2 linked regions of the Homo sapiens genome follow. The protein of the gene in region 1 purifies or fractionates together with the protein of each later gene. This does not show direct contact. Each region holds a gene or a part of one and is shown on either strand. Other genes may lie near its edges. The genes, in order: GFPT2 and ACOT9.

Evidence for each region.
Region 2: the proteins of GFPT2 (region 1) and ACOT9 purify together in Homo sapiens (affinity purification with mass spectrometry; 2 studies listed by BioGRID and IntAct, with this or other methods). This does not show direct contact.

What each region holds. Positions count from the first base shown.
Region 1 is NC_000005.10:180,336,781-180,352,520, forward strand, and holds part of GFPT2 (glutamine--fructose-6-phosphate aminotransferase [isomerizing] 2), read right to left. Parts: intron 1,821-15,740; coding exon 1,713-1,820; intron 1-1,712. UniProt on the Homo sapiens protein: Controls the flux of glucose into the hexosamine pathway. Most likely involved in regulating the availability of precursors for N- and O-linked glycosylation of proteins.
Region 2 is NC_000023.11:23,731,724-23,742,139, forward strand, and holds part of ACOT9 (acyl-coenzyme A thioesterase 9, mitochondrial isoform a precursor), read right to left. Parts: intron 4,294-10,416; coding exon 4,196-4,293; intron 2,645-4,195; coding exon 2,618-2,644; intron 1,495-2,617; coding exon 1,449-1,494; intron 1-1,448. UniProt on the Homo sapiens protein: Mitochondrial acyl-CoA thioesterase. Catalyzes the hydrolysis of acyl-CoAs into free fatty acids and coenzyme A (CoA), regulating their respective intracellular levels. Regulates both mitochondrial lipid and amino acid metabolism.

The sequences.
Region 1 (15,740 bases):
CTCCAGGCCGCAGCTGCCCCCAGCCCTGCTCCTGCCTAGCTAGGGTGAGCCCCTCGGGACACTTCCCCGCTGCAGGCGCTCCCAGGCCCTCGGCTGATGGCAATGGGCCCAGGCAGGGCATTTATCCCAAGGGCTCCTCGCATTGTGATATTTCGTTGGTATCTCCACTGCGTTAGTGTTCCTCCCGTCGTCTATCGGACGTGCTTCCTATTAAGAGTCGACAAGGATTTAAAACCATCGGGCTCCCCCTTTCTCCTCAGGCTGCATAATTAAACAAGGTCAACAGACTAAACATCCACCTTTGCAGTGAATGGAGGCCTGAACTCTGGGACAGCCACCCAGCGGAGCATTGTGTAGCCACTTAGAAAGCTACTTAGAAAGAGTTTAGGATCGGCCGGGTGCGGTGGCTCACGCCTGTAATCCCAGCACTTTGGGAGGCCAGGGCGGGTGGATCACAAGGTCAAGAGATTGAGACCATCCTGGTCAACACGGTGAAACCCCGTCTCTACTAAAAGTACAAAAATTAGCAGGGTGTGGTGGTGGGCGCCTGTAGTCCCAGCTACTCGGGAGGCTGAGGCAGAAGAATGGCGTGAACCCAGGAGGCGGAGCTTGCAGTGAGCTGAGATCGCGCCACTGCACTTCAGCCTGGGTGACAGAGCGAGACTCCATCTCGAAAAAAAAAAAAAAAGAATGAATGAGTTTAGGATCCTAGAAATGCCAAGTGAAAAGAGAAGAATATAAAATTACAAAATTGCATAATTATAATTAGGTAAAAACAAAAAATATCAACGTACAACACCTCCACCACAGACCACCCCCACAGACAACAGCGACCGGAGAAGGGTCCCAAAGACTGATGGGGGCTCCTTTTTTAATGAAGCCACCTCACTGAGGCAGGGCTGACAAACACAACGCTGCGCATACTTAATGTCTACAACTCGATGAGCTTGGAGGCACGTGTGCCCCCATGAAACCACCACTGCCGTCTATGCCATCAACCTATCACCTCCGAGAGTCTGCTCCTGCCCTCTTTATGTATTGTTCTGTGTGTGATAAGAGGACTTAGCATAAGCTCTACCCTCTTGGCTGGGCTCACTGGCTCACACCTACAATCTCAGTGCTTTGGGAGGCAAAGGCAGGAGGATCGCTTGGGGCTACGCCGGGCAGCACAGTGAGACCTCATCTCTACAAAAAATAAAAAATTAGCCGGGTGTGGTGGTGCACGCCTGTAGTCCCAGATGCTGAGGAGGCTGAGGGTCGCCTGAGCCCAGGAGCTTGAGGCTGCAGTGAGCCAATTTCTTGGAACTGCACTCCAGCCTGAGTAACAAAAATAAAAATAAAAATATGAAAATCTACCCTTTTGGCAAATTTTTATGTGCAAAATACAGTGTTGCTCAAGTCAGGCACCGCACGGCAGAGCAGCTGTCCAGGACTTACTCATGCTGCATGACTGTGGCTTTGTACCCTTTCTGCTTCCTGATGGGGGGACTTCTGATGAAGGGGGTTTTCTGGGGTTTTTTACCCTTGCTTCTTCTATTTTTCCATAGTTTTCGAATTTCTTTAACGGACAAGTGTTATTTTTATATTGAAAAGAGACGTTAAAAAGTAGCAGAAAAAATGCCCTGGTTGTAAACCCCCCTGCAGTGGAGATGGGTGAGACCACAGCAGCGGAGCCCGGTCCCCAGCCACGAGGCGGGCGGCCGCACACCCACCTGCCGAGTCGTAGCCTCTGTACTCCAGCCGCTGCAGGCCCTTGATGAGGGTTTCGAAGATCTCCTTCCTCGTCCGGGGGACTCTGTAGTTCATGTAGGCAAAGATTCCTGTTCAAAGAGAAAAAAATGGTGCATTCATAAAATACTCAGCTCGTGTTTGGAAGAAAACGCTTCTGGGGGATGCACCGAGGTGGCATCACAAAGGTCTCCCAGGGGCTTGCAGAGGTGGGTATGCCCCTCCCTGAGCACAGCTGAAGAACGGTGCACCCCTTCTTCCTCCTGTGACAAAAACCCCCAGAAAGCCTGTGTCACATGTCTTGGGCTGGCAGTTCCACTGCTGAGAACTTATCCTATGCTGTACTTGCAGGAGGCAGCTTTCAGCGTGGCAATGTCCATAATAGAAAAGGCAGCAATGAAATCCAACCGCCTTAGGACATCCGGAAGTCCCCACCTCCATGCACTCCCTGATTTGCAGAGCACACATCTAGGAGTGCCATAGAAAGGGACAGCAGCCCCCAGGGCAGATGGGACAGGCGCTGGGGCCTTTGCTTCCACGGTCCCCTTCTCCGTAAGGCTGGAACTTGACCTTAAATAAGCACTACTTGAGCCGGGGGCGGTGGCTCATGCCTGTAATCCCAGCCCTTTGGGAGGCCGAGGTGGGTGGATCACCTGAGGTCAGGAGTTCGAGACCAGCCTGGCCAACATGGTGAAACCCCATCTCTACTAAAAATGCAAAAATTAGCTGGGTGTGGTGGTGTGTGCCTCTAACCCCAGCTACTCGGGAGGCTGGGGCAGGAGAATTGCTTGAACCAGGGAGCTGGAGGTTGCAGTGAGCCGAGATCGTGCCACAGCACTCCAGCCTGGCGACAGAGCTAGACTCTGTCTCAAAAAAAAAAAAAAAAAAAAAAGCACTACTTTTATGACAGCAAGAATAAAACCATCTCATGCCCCTTGGCCCCTGCAGAATCCTTATGTTCAAGGTAGGCCTATGAGTCAAGAAGATTTTGTTCCACTTGACTTTCTGTATTCATATTTCAAGATAATTTTCCAAACAGAAAGTTAGCCGTTGTGTTGGTTCTGCCTTCCAGATTCCTCCACTCCTTGTTTGTGATGACAGATCCTTGATGTCCTCTCTCCTGCCCTGTGCATGCCCCATCCTCATCCCATCATCCCTCTGTCCTTTCATCCTCGCTCCCACTGCTCAGGAAAACCTGCCCACTTCAAAGCTCAGCTCCAGCCCCCGCCCTGGGCAGGTGTGCTCCTGGCTCTGGCCACCTCAGTGCTCTCACGTCATGGGACACCCACAGTCCCCACCAAGGGCACAGGCTGGTGCTTCTATCTTTGTATTCCTCACTGTGTGTTGGCACCCAGTCCTGTTCACATGTGGAACAGAATATGTGATGAGTGTGTATCTGTATCCCTGGAGGGAGGCAATAGTATGGGTCATAGAAATGTCACTGGGTTTCAGGCATATTCACGGTAACTGTCCTAAGTTGGCTTGGGCTGCTGTAACAAAATACCACAGACTGCCTGGGTTATAAGCCACAGATGTTTATTCTCACAGTTCTGGAGGCCGAGAAGTCCAAGATCAAGGTGCCAGAGATTCAGTGTCTGGTGAGGGCCCGTTCCTCACAGACAGTGACTGCTCATTCCAACCTCATACGGTGGAAGGGGCCAGGGTCTCTCTGGAGGTTTTTTTTTTTGTTTTTGTTTTTGTTGTTTTTCTTTTTTGAGACAGAGTTTCATTCTTGTTGCCCAGGCTGGAGTGCAATGGCACGATCTTGGCTCATGGCAACCTCCGCCTCCCGGGTTCAAGCGATTCTCTTGCCTCAGCCTCCCGAGTAGCTGGGATTACAGGCATGTGCCACCACACCTGGCTAATTTTGTATTTTTAGTAGAGATGGGGTTTCTCCATGTTGGCCAGGCTGGTCTCGAACTCCCGACCTCAGGTCATCCGCCCGCCTCGGCTTCCCAAAGTGCTGGGATTACAGGCGTGAGCCACCCTGCCTGGCCTGCAGGTTTTTTTTTTTTTTTTTTGAGACGGAGTCTAGCTCTGTTGCCCAGGCTGGAGTGCAGTGGTGCCATCCTGGCTCACTGCAAGCTCCGCCTCCCAGGTTCACACTATTCTCCTGCCTCAGCCTCCCGAGTAGCTGGGACTACAGGTGCCCGACACCATGCCCAGCTAATTTTTTTTTGTATTTTTAGTAGAGATGGGGTTTCACCATGTTAGCCAGGATGGTCTCAATCTCCTGACCTCATGATCTGCCCACCTCCGCCTCCCAAAGTGCTGGGATTACAGGCGTGAGCCACCACGCCTGGCTCCGCAGTTTTTAAATAAGGGCACTCATCCCATTCGTGAGGCCCATGTCCCTATGACCTAATCGCCTCCCCAAGGCCCCACCTCCTAGTAAGACCACCATGCAGCTGAGGATTTCAACAGATGAATGACGGGGGAACAAACTCTCAGGCCACAACAGCGACTCGCCTCACTGAGAAGTCCCTGTGGGCCGGGCACTGGGCCACCAGTTCCCACAGGGTCATCCTATGCTCAAAACAGCCTCTGAGGCTAGTCCATGGCCCTCCTCTTAACTTCTGGACCAGAGCCACAGGGGAGCCTGTGACTCGTCCAGAGCCAGAGTGGAACCAAGAATCCCCGACTCAGGACTTAAACACTCCTACCCACTGGCCAGTACCCCGGGATGGATGCCACGAGGGTTACAAGAAGGTTTATTTTCCCAACTATGTTTTGCTGGGATGAGAGAAAGGTCTGATCAGGATTGAAATTTTTCCAGAGGTGAACCTCAGAGAGGACAACCTGCCCCTAGATAACAGACAGCTGATTGTGATTATATACGAAACCACCTGGAATATCTCTGGTAATTAAGAAGATCAGATTCATGTCAATATGCTACATCTGAATAAATGATAAACTTCAATGAAATGAATGTTATATTCCTAAACAGTGAGTGGGGTCCCATCATATAAACTTAATTAATCTATAAACAGTCAAAAATAGGCAATAAAATTAAATAGTACTATAAATTATACTTAAATTCTTACTGAAAGCTACTGTACACAGGATATGTTTGCACATATGTATTAAGGTGGGGGATTTATATATAAAAATATGTACACTATGCTTTCTGAGCAGTTACAGGCGTTTTCCTTTAAAATCAGCCAAGGGCAATTTTCTCGGTAGGCTATTTTTGTCTTCCTTGCCATCTTTAGATCAGGTGAGAGGAGCTGAATGTATGGGCTGTGTGTGCAGTTCAGGCCCTTCTCCGGCAGGGCCAAAGTGTCCCCAGTGAGGGCCGCGCAGCACTGCTGCTGAGTATTTATGGTTCCAGAGGCTCACACGACAGCCCCCAAACATCTGGGCATGGGAGGTACTTTTGTCACCTTATTTTTTAAAAAGATAGTTATTTTTTGATATGGTTTCGCTGTGTCCCCACCCAAATCTCATCTTGAATTGCAGCTCCCACAATTCCCACGTGTAAGGAGGTAAATGAATCATGGGGGCGGCTCTTTCCCATGCTGTTCTCGTGAGAGTGAATAAGTCTCATGAGATCGGATGGTTTTATAAAGGGGAGCTTCCCTGCACACACTCTCTTCTCTTGTCTGCCGCCACGTGAGATGTGCCTTTCACCTTCCACCATGACTGTGAGGCCTCCCCAGCCATGTGGAACTATGAGTCCATTAACCCTCTTTCTTTCGTAAATTGCCCAGTCTTGGGCACGTCTTTATCAGCAGCATGAAAATGGACTAATACATCTTTTAATGTCAATTAAAAAATTTTAACAGCTTTCTGGAGACATAAGTCATGTACCGTAGCAGCCTGCCATCTAAAGCATGCGATTCAGTGGTTTAGTATATTCAGAGTTGTGCAATTATCACCATTCATGTTTAGGTGAAATGTTTTTTTTTTTTTTTTTTTTGAGACAGGGTCTCGCTCTGTTGCCTAGGCTGGAGTGCAGTGTTGTGATCTCGGCTCACTGCAACCTCGAACTCCCAGGCCCAAGCTATCCCCACAGCCTTGGCCTCCCAAAGTGCTGGGATTACAGGCATAAGCCACAGTGCCCAGCCTAGGTGAAACTTTTCATAACATTAACTCTTCTAAAAACAACCAGAGGCCAGCGCAGTGGCTCACGCCTGTAATCCTAGCGCTTTGGGAGGCCAAGCTGGACAGATCATGAGGTCAGGAGCTCAAGACCAGCCTAGCCAACATGGTGAAACCCTGTCTGAACTTAAAAAATAGAAAAATTAGCTGGGTATGGTGGTGCGTGCCTGTAATCCCAGCTACTCAGGAGGCTGAGGCAGGAGAATCTCTTGAACTCGGGAGGCAGAGGTTGCAGTGAGCTGAGATCACGCCACTGCACTCCAGCTTGGGTGACAGAGGGAGACTCCATCTCAAAAAGAAAAAAAAAGGAAGAAAGAAAGAAAGAAAAAAACAACAACCAGAAAGTTCCCTGTGGGGACATGGTCAAATTGTGGTCAATGTAAAGACCACAGTTAAGCGAGGGAGGGAACAACTCAATAAAATCTGTTAGAGTCTTTTACACTGAACTTTCCTGGCATCCTGGGCTGGGAATGTTCTAGAATTATACTTGTACCACCCTAAGGGAAGCAGACAGACATCACAGATGACACAAAGGTTCAGAAATGTACCCATTGCCAACTCTGAAAAGGTTTTGCATCTGAATGATGTTCCCGAGTGCATAATGAGTCAGCTCTGCAACTCCCCCCTGCAGCTCCCCCACCTCCCAGCCACACTTCACTCCTGCACACGTCAGGCGAGAACGTTCGGCACGCTCCGCAAGGCACCGCTGACTTTCAGACCCACGACAGCCTCCTGGACAGCAGCGGGGGCATAAGGGGTCCTTGTCCTCAGGACCACCAGCTGTGTCCGTACCCAGCCAGGAGGCCCGGTGCCCACTCAGGCACAGCAGGGGAGCTGACTGCAGTGAGAAAAGCTGCCAAGGAGTGTGGTTTTCACCATCTTGGCGCAAGAAAGCATAAATCTCATTTTCACCACGAGCCCTCTTGCGTAGTGACATCCCTTCGGTCACTTCTTTCATGAAGGAAGCTCTGTTTCTTTGCTTTTGCAGCTCATCCTCTTGGCTGGATCCTCCCTGCACTCTACTGCACTCAAGTGAATAAAATAGCGTTCACGCTGTGCTCTTATCATTTAAAAATAAAACACAGAATAAAATGAAGCTCCTTTCCCAGGAATTTCTCCTGCTATTTACATCAGAATTCCCTTTTGGAATTCCTTCCATCCATAAATAAAAGCTACAGTGAGAATCCACTTTTTTAAACCCATGAGGTCGGTAAAGATCAAACAGTTGGACAGTGAGAGTTTAAACTCACATACCCTCTTTGGAAAGCAATCTGGCAATCTCTCAAAATTAAAAATGTACACATCTGTGGACCAGAGCTGTTGGGCTTCTAAGAAGGTATCCAGCGGACTTTTTGCAGAGATGCATGTGCACACGTGCGAGGACAGCTGCTCAGGGCTCTTGTGGTTGCCAAAGACTAGTGACAGTCTGATGTCTGGCAAGCGACAGGCAAGGGACAGGCAAGGGACAGTGCAGCCACACAGCAGGGCCTTTTACAGGCAGCCCTCAACAGAGAGCAAGGGAAAGCTGTGCATTCTCTTGGAAGGCAATTTAAATCTCCAAGATGTGTCAAGGGAAAAAGAAGCTTGCAGAATATGAGTAAATTACGCAAGGGCTGGGGGAGGAGCATGGAGCATTTCTAGAAGGGCACCACGCCCAGAGGGCAGTCAAAGGTAGCCTCTGAGGTCACTGGATGTTGAGCAGAAACTTCCTTTCCACTGCACGTGTCCTCTTTAGATGGTTAAGACATTTCACCGTGTGCCATGGCACATGTGCCCCTATGTGAATTAGGTGGTGATGAGTACATCACCATTATCTAGATGCCAGATAATGTCTAAATAAGCAAAGACTTCATTCTATCCACAGGGGGATGTCCTAGCCAAGGCCTGAGGGTTAACATGGACCGACTGTTTGGACAGTGGTGTACATGACGCAGACCTGCCTGGTTCACCTGGATTTCCTGTGGCACAGGCATTCTGCTGAGTGGGACCTGAGAGCTTCTGGGTACAGGAGGAGTGACCGTGCGGCACCTGGGACCCCCAGCCAGGCCGGACCTCTGGCTGGTTCTGCTTTCCACCGGTGCTTGAACCCTCCTGGCATGTCCGAAGCACCAGGGCCACAATGGCCCTTCCCTCTGCAGGGGACGCCAGGCCTGCCCTGGCCAGGCCTTCTTGCCCCTCGACAAGAGGGGCCGGGCCCACCTGACTTGGCTGGTCCCCTGTTCCACTCCCCTGGAAGAGCAACGGCCATAAGAGGGCTGTAATAAGGGGCAACCTAAGCACATGCCCCAGCCTTAAAAACACCAGCCCAGGGCCACCCGCCTGGGTTGGCTTCCTCCCTGCTGCTGCCATTCACCAGCCAAGGCATACCCAGAAGCACAGAGGCCGTGGCCAGTGCCGGAACCCACCTCGAACCCCAGCTCCACCCCTTGATTTCAGTGCACTCTCCAGCAAGCCACTGAATGTTCGGACCTCAGTTTCCCTGTCAGTGAAACAGGGTGATGGCTACAATAGTGCCTGCCACAGGGCAAGGAGCTTGAGAAATTATCCCTTGAGAGATTTATCATTCAATAAAACCAAGGGGGAAATAGTACCATTTACTGTCATTTCATCTTGGCCTTCTGCCTGGGGAAATAATGGTTAAACCAAATGCGTTACTTGGTTGTGGCTTGGTCAAGATTTAATTCATCTGTAAGCAGTTCTCAGGCCCACAAGGCCGCGTTGCTGTACTAGGTGCTGCAAGCTACTGGGATGGACCCATCGGGGGGCCTCACTGAGCGCTCCAGGGAAGGACAGGGATGCACAGGGACCTCCCAAGCCCACAGGGGAGGTGGGAAAGGGCTTCCCGCTGGGGTGGGAGTAGGCAGCTCTTTGCAAGGCTGGCTCTTGCTAGCTCTTCGCAAAGGCGCCTCTGACCCATTCTGCAGGTTTTAGCAGATCTTTCCCACCACCTTCTCCAGCCACATAGCCCTGGTTATTCCACGCTGCACTTGCTTCCTTGTCTTTTTCTTCGGCTCCCCGCTGGATTGTAACCTTCTGGAGGATGGGACCACATCTGTCTCATCCATTGCTGAGTCCCCAGCACCTGGCCCAGGGCCTGGCACATCTTAGGTGCTCAATAAATCCATGTTGAGTGAATGAATGAACAGATGGAGGAATGCCAGAGAAGGTAGCCTTTGAGCTGGGTCTGAGACAGCCACGTTCAGCCAAGCATAAGCAGCTCCGCTCACTGGGACCCACAGCAAGGACAAGAGGGACACAGAGGCAGGAGGTCCCTGAGTGCCAGACCCTTACAATGGGAGCACGGTGCCACCAGAACTCTCGGTTAACCCCAAGATAATCAAACACAGAGGCTTACATCCCCCCGCACAACACCCCCGGCCCCATGCACCATGAGGATCCCAGGACTGGCATGAGGACAGCCTTCTAATCAAATGAGCCAGGGCCTAGGGAAGGCTCCCAGAACCCTGCTGGGTAAACCACCATCTACAGTGGCTCCCCGCATGCCAACCCTTCCCGAGCTTCACCTCCTCTAATCCTCATGACATCCTGTGTGAAGAGACTGTGGTTCCCAGGGATAGAGATGGCATCGGAGGCTCCACTGCCAAAGACTTGAGGAATTCACAGCCAGGTCTGCCTTTTTGCAAGCCTGGGCTCACCACTTCTACCCCCACCTCCCCACAATCAGCATAGAAACCTATCCCAAGAAGAAAGGTATAGCTCACACAGAGGGTCCCTGGCTTCTGAGGAGATGCCCGCCTAGCACCAGATGGGTCCAGGACAGGTGCTGCCCCCTGAGAGCCAAGCCCCACCACGGGACAGTCCAGCTTCCAACTCCACCTTTCTCCTCCTGTTCAGCCCCCACCCCACCAGGGCCTCGGTGACCACGGCAAGGCAGGTTCCAGCTACATCCCTCTCTCGTCTTCTCTGCCCCGCGGGCCCACCGCGTGACGTCAACCCCTCCTGCTGTCTGGCCTGAGCCCGCCTTGCTCCCCATGCCACCCTGCAGCTTCCGCCCTCTGGGTCCCACTCCTGCAGGGTGCCCTCAGCCCAGTGCGTGCGCCCCTGGGGCCCCCAGGCCTATGCACATGTGATGCCTTCTCCAACCCCCTACCCCAGATGAAGATCTTTTCCCTCCTCTGAACCCCTTTTTCCAACTTTCCGTCCCCTTTTCAAGGCATCTGTCACTTTCTACCTTGATCTACTGCTCTTTCCTAGCCTCCACTCCCAGGGCTGCCCACGGCGTAAGAAAGGCATCACTGGCAGGCGACAGGATTTTAAATGAGCTGAGAACGGGGCAGTAAATAACACCAAACTTCTTTGGGGGAAAGTTTTCCCCTTTCTGTTACTCTTCTTAGCTTGGAAATCTCCTTGCAGAACTGAGAGGGAACAGACATCAGGCCTAGCAAACCTGGGAGCAGTCTTATTTCTCACATTGAAGAGACAGGGGATGGACCCAGCCAGGTGGGGGATGCTGAGCGCCCAGAGGGGCTGGACAGGGAGGTGCCTTCAGGTTCCCAAGAGCCTGCAGAGGGTTGGGATTGAGAGGCCAGGAGAGCCGAAGGCAGGAGAGCCTGAAAATGCAGGCTTTATGGAAAGTCTGAGATACAGGAGCCTGGAGATCTTTCTAAAGAAAAGGAGCACTTTGCAACCTCTGCAAAGATGGCCCTGGGCCAAGCATCCTTCCTACCAGCAGGAGAGCCCAGGTGGCTTGGAGAAAGGCCCGGCCTGGGGGCAGAGGCTGCCCTGGCCCCACCACCCAGTTTGGTCATGTGCCCTGTGGTCACCCACCCAGAGCTTCCAGACAGCCTTTCAGGGCCCTATCCTCAAAATTGATAGATAAAATGAACCGGGAAAGGTCCCAGAAGGAGAGGGACCGAGAAAAACTCAAGGGGATTCCAGAAGGGATTCGACATGAGCCCTCCGAGAGGAGACTGTAGCCTCTTGGCCCCGGCTCACTGCTATATTCTGGGGCTTCCAGCACTTTCTCTGCACAAGGCCCGAGAGATCACACAGGAAGTCAGGAGCAAAGACATCATGAAGGGGCACGCAGGCAGGGCCTCTGAAGCTCAGGGTTCAACCCCCAAGTGACAGATAACGACAATGGCCAGCGCAGGGAGATGATATTCCCTGGACACCCAGCCAGAAGGTCAGCCACACTAGGGCACTGAATTCCTGGGATTTCCTCTACAGCCCCTGGAGTGCTGAGCGTGGGGGTGGAGGGGAGGGATGATTTGCGGCCTGGGGGATGGGGAAGACACCACTTCGCAGCAGCCAGGTTGGGCCCACGTTCTGATTCTGGTGACGCTTGTTTTGAAAAATCTCTCCAACTTTCCAAGCATCGGCTTCCCAACGAAAGCCCAGCCCTCACTCTGAGTGAGGGGACCGTTCCAGGGAGAGGCCCAGCCAGTGCTCCACACAGGACAGGTTGGCTCTGGAAGCTATGTCACCACCCACCCAGGCCAGGACTCACCCCTCAGAGATCTGTCTTTCTCCCACCATCTGTTGCTTCTCCGAACTGAAGGGGCTGACCTTTATAGTCCATGAGCCTCCTAGAGATTAGGTATCATCCCAGGTCCCAAACTGGATTACTTCCTGCCTCAACAGAAGAGTACGGCCAGTTGAATGTCTGCCTCAATGAGGGCTCGTGAAATTCCCGAGCGTGTGCACGTGTGTGCCTGGGCCTGCCTGTGTGTGTTGGGGGAAGAGGGACAGGTCCACTCTCCTGGGTGAGGCCCACAGGTGTGGAGAGTCCCCTGGGCCTTGGGCAAGGGCTGCTGAGGAGCTGTGGCCTCTCATACACTGGGAAAGGTCACTTGGTGAAGCAGGGATGACAATTCCTGCCACCTCCTTGCAGAAACAAGATCAAAGCTGGAGGTGCCGCGGATGCATGTGATCCCACGCCAGGCTCTTACAGAAAGACAGAGGAGCCTGCGGGCCTGGCGGGGGCCCTGAGCAGACGCGGCACCTGGCTCAGGGTAAGAAGGGGACTTGGCTCCCCTGGAGACAGCCCCAGACTGCCCCAGGCCTCTTTGGGACCCCAGGAGTTAAAGTGACCTCACCATTGGAATCCATGAGATAATAGACTCTGCTTCCTGTGGTAACCTGGACAGGACATTTCTTTTCTTTTTTTTTTTTTTTGTTTTCTTTTTTTGAGACAGGGTCTTGCTCTGTCGCCAGGCTGGAGTGTAGTGGCACGATCTCGGCTCACTGCAACCTCTGCCTCCTGGGTTCAAGCAATTCTCCTGCCTCTCCTTCCCGAGTAGCTGGGACTACAGGTGCGTGCCACCACACCTGGCTAATTTTTTGTATTTTAGTAGAGACAGGGTTTTACCATGTTGGCCAGGATGGTCTCGATCTCCTGACCTCGTGATCCACCCACCTCGGCCTCCCAAAGTGCTGGGATTACAGGTGTGAGTCCCCGTGCCCGGCCATTTCTATTTTTTAATAGAAAAGTTGCCAGTGTCCCTTTCATTCTTACAGTTTCACCAAAAACAAAGAGGGAAGTGATATATATTTAATTAAAAGAAAAAAAAATCTTAAGAAAAGAAGGGGACAGGTACAGTGGCTCATGCCTGTAATCCCAGCACTTTGGGAGGCCGAGGTGGGAGGATGGCTTGAGCCCAGGAGTTCAAGGATGCAGTGAGCCATGATTGCCCCACTGCATCCCAGCCTGGGTAACAGAGTGAGACTCTGCCTCTAAAAATAAAAATAAAATACCTAAATAGTTTAATTGTTTTATTGTGAAATTCATTTTCAGAATTTTCTCTCAAACTTATAACCTCAAATTAATCACTCTTTATAAGCTAATTTTGCTAGATACAAAAATAATCTCTCAATTGAAAAGCACTGTTTACTGATGCTATACCATAAAGTTATAAAAAGAAGGTTTTTCTGAACTTGGGAATCCCCTGAGGAGACAGTGGAGGGCTGCAGCCAGCACAGAGACTGGAGCGACACAGCCACAAGCCAAGGAACGCGGCAGCCCCAGGAGCTGGGAGAGGCCGGCGACAGATTCTCCTCAGAGCCTCTGGAGGAGGCTCAGCCCTGAAGGTACCTTGATCTGGGCCAAGTAAAACCGATTCTGGACTTGTGGTCTCCAGAACTGTGAGCGAATACATTTCTGTTGTTTTAAATCAGTAAGTTTGCAGTCATTTGTTACAGCAGCCAGTGGAGACGAACACACCAACCAGGACAAAAGACGGTGATGTCAAGGCAAGGGCTTCACCTTCTGGCAAGAACTAAGAATTCTCCAGCTCTTCACAGTGATTGTTTTTTTTTTTTTCTCCCTCACAGATTACTAAGTGCAGTATGGGACGCACAGGGACAGTTTACAAATTCGTGGATGGGAAGCGCAAATCCTTCCTGCCAAATCCCCATGCATGCCTGGTCCATGCTGCCACACTCCAGCTCATGCTGTGCCCCAGCCCAGCGTGCCTGCCACCCCCTCCTCTCTGCAGGGCCCGTGCTCGTGTCTGGGTCCTTGTGGCACTGCCCCAGGTCCCTCCCCTTCTTCCTAGGAAGGTCAGCTCCTGCCTCTGTTGTGCAGAGTCCCATGAGTGAGGGAGGCAGCTGGGAAGGACTGGGAGAACAGGCGAGTTTGTGTCCATCACCCAAGGGGTCACCCAGGCCCTATTTGGAAATAAGGACTCCAGGTTGCTCATCTTCAGATTTTGTCAAGAGAAGCCAAAACTCCCACCTACTTATGTGAAATCTCCCAATTTTGTACTTTGGTAACTAATAGAGGAAAAGGTTTAAACCCTGTGCACCAAACAAAAAGATGTCTGTCTTCCCTGTTCGGCCAGTACTCTACCAGGCTGTAGCCCGTGCTCAAGGTCCTCCCTCCACAGCAGCACTGCCCTGATCGGCATCCCGTCCCTGCTGGTGACCAGTCTCTGGACTAGCCCTGCGGCTCACCTGCCCCTTCTTTGAGGGGAGGACCACACCCATGAGATCTTCGAGTCCCCCAGGGCCTGGAAAACACTGGGCATTTCCACTAGTGGCTGAATGAAAAAGGAAGCAGAGAAGGAAAGGAGAGAGACAGGGAGGAAATATTGTAAATTTTCTGTCGCAGAAAGTCAGCAAAATGCCAGCAACTTTCAGATGTCAATAAAACCAAAGTGTCATTTCAGCTAAATTCTCAGTGCACTGAAAGTTTTTGAGAATCATCTGCTGTTTGTAGAGGATCAACTACTGCCGAGTCCTGGCTTCCCATGAGAGAAGCAGCAGGATAAAGGACAGCAAGACATAATCTCAGCAGTGTCATCAGCCAAGTGATAAGGAAGGGCCTTAGGTCTCCGCCCCTGAGGGAACGGCCCAGGAGATCTGAGACCCGAGGCCTGCTCAGACGCCAGGTGCGCACAGACTTCGCAGGGCCTCAGCTTCCCCAGCGTAAAGTGAAGAGCTTATCTGGTTCTTTCTAGGAGCATCTTCACGATTCTTGCAGTATCCTTGTACTAATAGCATAATCACTACTTTTTCTTCTGCAGAATTTGATTAAATTTTCAAAAATTTAAATGAATTCATGCCAAAAGAAAACAACCATAAAAGGAAAATCAGTATCACTTGTCATACATACTCAGACCATCATCCCCCCCAAACAGACCAATGTATTCAATTCTAGCCAGCTGCTGCTGCCTGCTCTGAGCCAGGAATGGCTTCCCCTCTGCACAGGATACTTAAGCAAGTGTCAGAGAGATGTTAAGGACACGTTAGCACCAAGTTGAAACTTTCTCCTGATGTTCTTGAAAAGGAAATAACTTTCCCATGCAGGGATTCCACGACTTCCTGCTGAGCTGTGCCCTCCCCACTTCCCCCACCCTGCCCCCAGCCCCAAATCAGCAAATCTGGGAATTCTGAGAAGGCACCTAAGCCAGCACGCACTCTTTGATTCTGGCTCCGAGTGGGCACCCCCATGGACCGCAGCCACTCCTGAGCCCTGGGTGTCCTTTGGGGACCTCAAGCTCCTTCTCACATACAACCACAAGTCAGTACCAGAAAATCTGAAGATACAGGTGGTCACACCCCAAAGCTCAACCTTTCCCTAGGAGACAACGCGTGTGTGTCCCTTTAAGAAGCAGAACAAAAACACTTGTGATTTTGTGAGCTGGAGGAGGTAGAGCCCCCCCAAAGCTCAGAGAGACTTGGGAAAAAGCAAGATGCCAGTAGGAAGGAGGATGACAGGCAGGGGTGGCAGTGGGGGCAGAGGAGCATCTGAAAGGAAGGGGAAGGGGAGCCTCTGGTGCTGTGGGCAGACCCTCCTGGTTCAAGGGTCTCCTGCACAAGTCTGGCCCCAAGGCCACCAGTTTTGGCCAAGGGTCTTGAATGCTACACTGAGAGGTGTGGAACATCAGGGCTTGGACATCTGGCAAAACTACCACCTTTGCCTCATCTCTGCCCCCAGAAACACCCAAAGGTGGCTCTACACATGGAGAATGGCGTCTGGGAGCACGAGATTTTAGCTGAGGGTTCAGGAATTTCCACGGATGCCTGTTCAGCCTGGGTGAGGCGGCATCCCGAAGCACGCTGCCCGCTCCGCCGTAGGTCGTTCCCTTCTGCCGAGCAGCTGGCCTCCGAGACAAGAGGCCTGCACAGACCTCGGCCAGGGCTCACCGCGGGCGCACCCCACCCCGGCCCTCAGCAAAGTCAGAGAGAGGCCTTTCATGGCTTCGAAAGTTCCTCCAGGTCCTCCAGCCACAGGAGGCTGGAATGGGTAACCGAATCCTACTCAAGGAAAAAAAAAAAAAAAAAAAAGAGCACAGTGACCTTTTGTCCCAGCAGAAGTTCCCGGCTCTCTCCCGGCCAGCGGAGGCGGCCCAGCCAGGAGAGTAAAGAATTGCAGATGTGCGCTCCGGGCCGCGGCCGCCCTCCCCACGGTCCCGCAGCCACGCGGGACAGCGCGGGAGCGCCGCGGG
Region 2 (10,416 bases), on another chromosome or scaffold:
CTCTCTCTCTGCCTTCAATTTCAGGAAAGAGAGACAGAGGAGGGAAAATGGACTATATCCAAAGGAAGTATGGAAGGCAGAACAAAAGGTAAAGAAGAACATAACATGAAAAGGAGACAGAAAGGGAAGAAAAAGAAGAGAAGATTAAGGTGAAAGAGAAAAGAAAGACAAGGGGATACGGAACGACAATGTTGATAAGAACATTAGCTAAGATGTCTTTCTAAGCTTAACTTATAAAGTATTATTTCCAGAAATGTTTACCCTACAAAAACTACAGGAGATAGAGGAATGAGTTAAATGACACCAGTAAATCCAGAATGTGGAACATTCTCAAGACAAATGGCTTGGCCTCCTTAAAGTCAAGCTCATGGGGGAAGAATAGGGGAAGGACGACTGTCCATTACTCTAGATTAGGGAAGACTAAAGAGTCATAACCACCAGATGCAACATGCAATCCTTTATTGGATCTTGATGTTTTTTAAACAGCTATAAAAACATTTTTGTTAAAAGGAGTAATCTATTACACAAAATGGTAACAGTTGAGGAAATGTGACTATGGATGAGTAATATACTAGCAAGGAATTGCTGTCAATTTGATTACATGAGAGAATGTCTTATTTGTTGGAGATAAGCGAAGGCTGGTTTTATAAAATGTTTACTGAAGATGCACGCTGAAGTGTCATGGTGTCTATAATTTACTTAGAAATGGTTCAGGCAATATGTGTATATTGGAAAATTTGGCAAAATATTAATAAGTATGGAATCCAGGTGGTGGGTACACAGGTATTCATTCTTTCTACCTTTTAGTAAAGTGAAATTTTTCATATAAAGAATTTAAAAATAAGTCATTAGATAATTTCTATACCAACAATAGATTATTATATATCTAGTGATCACTCGTGTTTTTTCTATCTCATTTTAGCCTCAAAATTATGTACACCAAGAGGGATATGATCCTACTTTACAACAAGGAAATACTGCGAGAAAGAGAAAGACAATATGGGAGGCCTGACTAATTTTGAACTGACAAGAAGCAATAAAGGAGTCAAGTTGCATGAAACAGAGAAACTTAGCGACTTGGGTTCAAGTCCCAAACCCTGACATTTAATCATTCAATCTCTGAGTTTCAGTTTCATGTGTAAAAAAAGGAACAGGAACATATGTCGTAAGCACGTCACAAGTTTTGTTATGAGAATCAGTGAAGTAATATACACCTAAATGCACTTTGAAAATGCAGAATATACGTAAATCATCTTCTTTCATGACAATGAGGTGTCATCTGATGAGTATGTTGAAATGTTGACCTTCTCCCCCAAGCAAAATACTTCTCAACCTATCTCTGAACATAGGGCTCCCCATCCCCACTGTGAGACCATCAACTGAGCCTAAATACAGTGTAGTATAATACCTTGGGGATGAAAAGAATGAATGAAAACAAAGATGCATACCTCCAGTTTGTGGATGCTCCTACTATCTCCCGCAACTTATCTCGAACTGAAACAAAAATAAAGAGGTCATTCCATGAAACAAAGAAATATGAGAAACGGATTATGGCAATGAGCTCAAGAACTACAAAAAGCAATTCATGCACTCAAAAGATTTAAAGATCCATAGATTTCCATTTAATGCCACAACAAACAGCTCAGGGACAGGATCAAGCCTCTGCTCCCTAAAAACCTGAAAGAACTATACTGTCTCTTTAAAGGTGCACAAATGAATACCTTTGTGCCAATCACTAGGGTTTATATAAACAAACAAAAAAGGATAACTTCAATTATTCACTTAATGGGGCTGTATCAGTGTTAGCCAGTAAGAGCCATTATGATGGAGATATGAACAGGATTCCCACCTATCTTCTTTTTTGTTGTTTTTTTTGAGATGGTCTCACTCTGTCACCCAGGCTAGAGTTCGGTGGCACAATCTCGGCTCACTGCATCCTCCACCTCCCGGGTTCAGGCGATTCTCCTGCCTCAGTCTCCCAAGTAGCTGGGATTACAGGCGCTGTGCCACCACACCCGGCTAATTTTTGTAGTTTTGTTTTGTTTTGTTTTGTTTGAGACAGAGTTTCGCTCTTGTTGCCCAGCCTGGAGTGCAATAGCACGATCTCAGCTCACTGCAACCTCCGCCTCCCGGGTTCAAGTGATTCTCCTGCCTCAGCCTCCCGAGTAGCTGGGATTGCAGGCAGGCATCACCATGCCCTGCTAATTTTGTATTTTTAGTAGAGATGGGGTTTCACTATGTTGGTCAGGCTGGTCTTGAACTCCTGACCTCAGGTGATCCGCCTGCCTCGGCCTCCCAAAGTGCTGGGATTACAGGTGTGAGCCACTGCGCCTGGCCCCCACCTATCTTCTTATACGCAGTAATAGATCAAATTACTTAGTTCAGAGACTAATACTAATATCCAAATCTGAGTCTCATTATAATTAATTTCTCATATATTTATAGTCTCCTGGTTGTTAGAAAAGTTTAAGCCAGAAAAATGAAGCAAAGACTTACATCAAGCTAAGGCAAAGAATGCAATTTTAGTTAATGCCACTGCCCAAAAGTGCAAGCGTATATTAGTGCTTACAAAATTTAAGCTCTTAAAAGAAAAGCTGATACTAATTACCACACACACCATGATTCACATGTATAGATGAACATGCTATATGAATAAAGGGAAAATCAATTAGAGAACCAGCAATAATTCAAAACTAAAAGATAAATCTGTAGTATTTCAAATACTGTGTTGAGTTTATGTGTTTTTCCTAGCACTTCAAAATATACATTCCAGTTATAGGAAATTAACTATAGCAATCCTCAGTCCTTCAATAACTAACTGATCAAAACCAAATATAATTTATATGAACATGCATTTTAACTTTCATGAAAAATGGTTGATTTTTCTATCAAACAATTTTGGATACACCATAAATTTGATGTATAATTACAACTAAATGTTAGAGAACTGCAAACAACAACCATTAGTAACTTAGTCTTATTTCTGATTTTTTCCTCCTAAGTTCCTTGAATAAAAGAATGGATGGGGCCGAGGTGGGTGAATCATGAGGTCAGGAGTTCAAGACCAGCCTGGCCAAGATGGTGAAACCCCGTCTCTACTAAAAATACAAAGATTAGCCTGGCATGGTGGGCACCTGTAATCCCAGCTACTCAGGAGGCTGAGGCAGAGAATCACTTGAACCTGGGAGGCGGAGGTTGCAGTGAGCCAAGATCCCACCACTGCACTCCAGCCTATGCGACAGAGTGAGACTTCATCTCAAAAAAAAAAAAAAAAAAAAAAGGCTCACACCTGTAATCCCAGCACTTTGGGAGGCCAAGACAGGCAGATTACTTGAGGCCAGGAGTTCAAGACCAGCCTGGCCAACGTGGCGAAACTCCATCTCTCCTAAAAATACAAAAATTAGTTGGGCGTGGTGGAGCATGCCTGTAATCCTAGCTACTAGGGAGGCAGAGGTTGCAGTGAGCCGAGATCCTGCCACTGCACTCCAGCCTGGGTGACAGAGCAAGACTCCATCCCAAAAAAAAAAAAAAAAAAAAAAAAAAAAAAGAATGGACAGAAAGTACCTCAAATAGTACATGGACTACTGATGCTCACTGACATAAAATAATTACTACTAGCTTAATCAGTGTAAGAAGAGAGGCAAGTATTGAGGGCCAAGAAGGAAAAACTTTTTAATTTTACTTACATATATATTTATATACACACATAATATAAATTTATTTGGACCCTTTAAAGAAGCCGCAATTTTAATTATAACGAATACTCCTAGTTTAATAAAGACAATCCATAGTTTACGTATCATATTGGTAATTGAAATTAACTTTAATTAAGCATGGACTAACAGGATCCCTCGAACATAACTATGGACTAGGAGTGTTTACTTGATACAACTAATGGGCCCATCTCTTTTTTTCCATGCCTTCAGAACCTACACACAGGAAGTGGAAATCACCTAACTAAAAGAGCTCAGTCCTCAAGGCTCCCAGGAACAATAGTTCAAAATCTGAATGTGACTTCTATCTGAAGCTATTAATATTATGCAGCTATCCTGGTCATTTTGTCAATGAAATGTTTATGAAAGATCTACCTTTAATATGCCTCATTTGCTCTAAACTATCACTCTATATACCTTTCAAATAAAAGTAAAACAAGGTTTTTCACCACATAGGCATCAAACAGAGACACCATGCTTGCCTTCATGAATGTGGAAGATTCCCTGTTTCTTGGGGTTCTGGGGTCCTTGAGTCAGTCCTCTTCCAGGAGTAAGCTGCCCTTTGCCCAAGGCACAAAGCCTATAAAACAAGATAAAACACAGAGCAGATCCCACAGCTTCTTCCCTGGCAACCCTAAAGACCTACCCTCCTCCCAGAGTATCTGGCCATATCACCCTTAGTATATATTGTCTTGTAGGAGTCTGTAGCTGTTTCACAAGTATATGTATGTTTTCATGAGGCTATTCCATAAATCATCTCTCCCACTAGAGTAAACATTTCTTGAGAGCAGAGACCAATTAGGTAATTATCTACAAAATAAATAAAAGACGGCAACTAGGTTTAATGCATTTATTATTGGTCTTTCTATTTTATTAGTTTCAGAAGTCCATAATCGATTTAGTAAACAACTGAGCAAACTCATTATGAACAATTTATTCTGTTCTTTATTATCGCACCATATTTCCTCAATAAATAAGATAAACCCAATTATAAAGTAAACTTTGAAAATTGAATTAGCCCTTTCCAGATGCAAAGAAAGTATTTATTTAACTTACGCAGAAATTTTCTAGAGTCCCAACACAATAAAATAAAAGCTATCTACTGGCCACGGTGGCACAGGCCTGTAATCCCAGCACTTTGGGAGGCTGAGGCAGGTAGACAGGTTGAGCCCAGGAGTTCAAGACCAGCCTGGGCAACATGGCAAAACCCCATCTCTACAAAAAATACAAAAATTAGCCGGGCGTGGTGGCATGCACCTGTGGTCCCAGCTACTCAAGAGGCTCAGATGGGAGGATCACTTGAACCCAGGAGGTCGAGGCTGCAGTGAGCCAAGATTGTACCACTGCACTCCAGCCTAGGCAACAGAGTGAGACCCTGCTTCAAAAAAATAAAAAATAAAAGCTGTCTACCTAAATGTGCCTAACCTACTCTCCCAAAATAAGTTGATTTTGGTTCATTATTGCTTAAGCATTGACTCCTAATCACACAATATTATGTCAGGGGTAGCACACAGGCAATATCACAGATTAATAAACTGATCTGTGAGAGCACAGTTGAAGAAGGCAAGGCACTGAATAGGTTAAGAACCCCGCAGGCCAGGCGTGGTGGCTCATGCCTGTAATCCCAGCACTTTGAGAAGCCAAGGCAGGTGGATCACTTGAGGTCAGGAGTTCGAGACCAGCCTGGCCAACATGGTGAAACACTGTCTGTACTAAAAATCCAAAAATTAGCCGGGTGTGGTGGCAGGCACCTGTAATCCCAGCTACTTGTGAGGCTGAGGCAGGAGAATCGCTTGAACCCAGGAGATGGAGGTTGCAGTGAGCCGAGAACACACCACTATACTCCAGCCTGGGCAACAGAGCAAGACTCTGTCTCAAAACAAAAACAAAAATAAAACAAACAAACAAAAAAAACCCAGAACCCCAGATACTGTCACTCATTCCAGTTCAATTTACTAGTAAATTCTCACCACCTAATGTGGGAATAAGCAATGACTAACAACAAAAAAAAGAGATATTTTTAGTTTTCTTTACAGACCAAGCTACTATAGGTTTCTCTTCTGAATGACAGCATTCAGAGAAAGCCTCTCAGTATTTACAGTATTCTGTAAAATCTACATGCAGTTTTGACACTGTGCTGTTAGAACAAATCCTTATCCTTTCACCAAGTCAAATCATCTAATTGCACAGAACACAGAAATATGAGCACATACTCATTGGCTAATTGAACTTCTTAGTCACCAGTCATCTTATTTGGTTGCAATACAATCCCTGCTGGTCCACTAAGACCAAAATTCTTGCTGGAGGGTTTGGGGTTTTGGATCTGTTTATTCTTCAATCACACAGCTAACAAGCCTCTCTCTTAAATATTTTAGCTTCACTTTTTCACGATAAATATTCAATTCCTGTACTTTCGTATACAGATTAATATTTGTCTTTTTTTTTTTTTTTAGACAGAGTCTCGCTCTGTCGCCCAGGCTGGAGTGCAGTGGTGCGATCTCGGCTCACTGCAAGCTCTGCCTCCCGGGTTCACGCCATTCTCCTGCCTCAACCTCCCGAGTAGCTGGGACTACAGGCGCCGCCACCGCGCCCGGCTAATTTTTTGTATTTTTAGTAGAGACGGGGTTTCATCATGTTAGCCAGGATGGTCTCAAACTCCTGACCCTGTGATCTGCCCACCTTGGCCTCCCAAAGTGCTGGGATTACAGGCATGAGCCACCGCACCTGGCCGTCTTTTTGTTTTTGACCATCTAATCTGCATTTTCTCAGAACGTGATTTGAATTTTCCATTTTTTTCATTATTTTGTTTTATGTATCTTCTATAGGTTCATATGCCTTACTGAAGGAAACAGAGTAAGTATTCCTTCATTCTTCCATCTCAGAAACAAGCAGCCAGGCATGGTGGCTCATGCCTGTAATCCTAACACTTTGGGAGGCTGAGGTGGGTAGATCACCTGAGGTCAGGAGTCCGAGACCAGCCTGGCCAACATGGTGAAACCCTATCTCTATTAAAAACATAAAAATTAACCAGGCATGGTGGCGCACACCTGTAGTCCCAGCTACTCTGGAGGCTGAGGCAGAATCACTTGAACCCAGGAGGCAGAGGTTGCAGTGAGCTGAAATGGCCCCATTGCATTCCAGCCTGAGCAACAGAGCAAGACTCCATCTCAAAAAAGAAACTAGCATTCTACAACTGAATATATCTGGTTTTAAAGAACACACTGGAAAAAGCTAATCCTTTCTATTGCTACCATTAGCTGAAAGAGCAAAAAAATCATGACCCCCAACACATTAATAGGAACTATAATAGACACGTTAAATGTATCCAACATAAGAAATGGGATCTGATTCTGAATGGCTAAATACCCTGAATACGCATCACTAACAGGAGCTATATAACCAGTCTCACATACCTGAATAAATACACATATACACAGAAATTGTTTTGTTACACTAAGAAGCAGCATTTTCTGAAGAGGGATGAAAATCATTCCATCCTGTTTGTGTGAGAGGCAATACAGTATAGGGGTTAACCCAAAGGCTGGGCGCAGTGGCTCATGCCTGTAATGCCAACACTTTGGGAGGCCGAGGCAGGCGTATCACTTGAGGTTAGGAGTTTGAGACCAGCCTGGCCAATATGGTGAAACCCCGTCTCTACTAAAAATATGAAAATTAGCTGGGCATGCTGGCGGGCACCTGCAGTCCCAGCTACTCGGGAGTCTGAGGCAGGAGTATTGCTTCAACCCAGGAGGCGGAAGCTGCGGTGAGCCGAGATCGTGCCACTGCACAGCGAGACTCTGTCTCAAAAAAAAAAGAGCCCAATCATGCTGCTTGTTAGCTGAGTTACCTTAGACAAGTTACCTAACCTCCCTGATCCTCAGTTTCCTCATCTGTAAAATGGGGATAATAATACTACCTATCCCATAGGATTGTCAAAAGGATAAAGGAATTAACACATATTAAACCCTGAAGGGCACGTCTAGAAGAGCATGTCTAATATACTGACAAGTCCTCAAAAATCTCTAGCTATCATTATTCCAGAAAGTCATGCTTCTCCAAAGTCTCCCCTAAAGATCAAAAAGAACCAGGCTGGGCACAATGGCTCACGCCTGTAATCCCAGCACTTTGAGAGGCCAACGCGGGAGGATCACTTGAGACCAGTGTGGGCAACATAGGGAGATCCCGTTTCTACAAAAAAATTTTAAAATATTAGTCAGGCGTAGTGGTGCACACTTGTGGTCACAGCTACTCAGGAGGCTGAGGTGGGAGGATCACTTGAGCCCCGGGGAGGTCGAGGCTGCAGTGAGCCATGATCGCACCACTGCACTCCAGCCTGGGTAAAAGAGCAAGACTCTGTCTCCAAAAAAAAAGGAAAGATAGCCTAAGCCAGGCACTATCACGGACCACTGCCAAACATAGAATCAAATGAGGAGAGAAAAGAAGGGAGTTAATGAATACAGAGAAACACTTGGGCCAATTTATTTGGAAAATTGTAGTCCTAGAGCCCCATTGCTTTGCATGCTGCCTTAAAAAATTTGGAAATACATTCCTGTGGCACAACAAAGGCATAATTGGAACACTTTTTAAAAAAATGTTGCTTATACCAATAGCATATTGGTAATAATAAATCTATATCATACTGTCAACATAGCATTCAAGAGTATTCGGGTAATGGTAACTTTTTTTTTTTTTGAGACAGTCTCACTGTCACCCAGGCTGGAGTGCAGTGGCAACATCTTGGCTCACTGCAACCTCCACCTCCCGAGTTCAAGCGATTCTCCAGCCTCAGCCTCCCGAGCAGCTGGGATTACAGCTGTGCACCACCATGCCCAGCTAGTTTTTGTGTTTTTAGTACAGACAGGGCTTCACCATGTTGACCAGGCTGGTTTTGAACTCCTGACCTCAAGTGATCTGCCCGCCTCAGTATCCCAAAGTGCTGGGATTATAGGCGTGAGCCACCGCGCCTGGCATGTAATGGTAACTTTTCACTACATTTGGTATCCTATTTACTGATAATCTGATGGAAACTGTGGACCTCGAGCGGGCGTGGGAAGGGTTGGAATACATTTTTGCTCACACACACAATGGTATATACTATTTCAGGAGGTGCACAGACCCTTTTTGTACCCTCAGATCCCCCTATATTTGAAGATTCTGATTCAAACCAACCTCCTTAAGAAACTGAGGCCCCAGTTTCAGACGACTTTCCCCCAGTGCCAGTCAACAGGCACACCAGCAGAGTCCAGATAGAGCCCAGTTCTTCCGATCTCCCCCAATACATACACACACACACACACACACACACACACACACACACACACACACACCGCACTGAGGTGGAGGAGGTGGGAGAATGGTTTTAATCAATACTCAACACTTCAGTACCTCAGGGTTACTGGCTTATCTCCTGATAAGCCCTCAGGAGTCTTACTTATAGCAAAACCTCTAGGCCTTTACTGTGGAGAGGCCTTTGCAACACTCAAATCCCAGGACCTTGTAACTGAACCTTTCCAATCAAAGGAGATCAAGAAACTCAAGGCGGGGGGAGTGGGGAGGGACAGCATTAGGAGATATACCTAATGCTAAATGACGAGTTAATGGGTGCAGCACACCAGCATGGCACATGTATACATATGTAACTAACCTGCACATTGTGCACATGTACCCTAAACTTAAAGTATAATAATAATAATAATAAAAAGATGATTATTACAAAAAGACAAAAGATAACAAGTGTTGGTGAGGATGTAGAGAAAAGGGAACCCTCGTACACTATTGGTGAAAATGTAAACTGGTACAGCCATTTTGAAAAATAATGAGGCAGTTCCTCCAAAAATTAAAAATATAACTACCATATGATCCAGCAATTTCTCTTCTGGACATATATCCCAAAGAAATAAAAAAAGTATTTCAAAGAGAAAAAAAAAAAAGAAAACTCAAGGCCTCCATGGCCTACCTGGGGAGTCACATAACTCACCCTGGCTCAGCCCTGGGTCCCAAGCTTACAGCAGTTGGCAAGGAAGAGTGTTCAGTGCAATAACAGGCAATACCACTCATATGCCCTCCACTCTGAGGAAATAACCTCTATTTAGAGACTAAACAAAGGTGCCTCTTGCAAGTCTAAAAAAGAAAAGAAGCTACAAAGGTTGCCCACCAGTCAAAGAACCTAATCATCTCAGTCTATATTCATTTGTGAACTCCTCCTCTCACTAGACACTAAGAGATTATCCGCTTAAGGTTCAATAGTTTTTTGTTTGAGACAGAATCTCACTGTGTTGCCCAGGCTGGAGTGCAGGGGCGCGATCTCAGCTCACTGCAACCTCTGCCTTCCGGTTCAGGCGATTCTCCTGCCTCAGCCTCCAAAAGTAGCTGTGACTACAGACATGCACCACCACTCCCGGCTAATTTTTGTATTTTTAATAGAGACGGGGTTTCACCATGTTGGCCAGGCTGGTCTCGAACTCCTGGCCTCAAGTGATCCATCCACCTCAGCATCCCAAAACGCTGGGACTGCAGTCGTGCACCACCACACCCGGCCTCAATAGAATTTTCAAGAAAGGAACACAGGGTTATAAGAGAAAGCACCTGAACAAGACCATGGAGCTTTTGTAGAAGACCTTTCACATTGCAAGCTAAAGTCAACTGTGGCCCCTCTCATAATGACTTTCAGTCTGCCTTCAAATAGTTTAACAAAGGTTTTTTG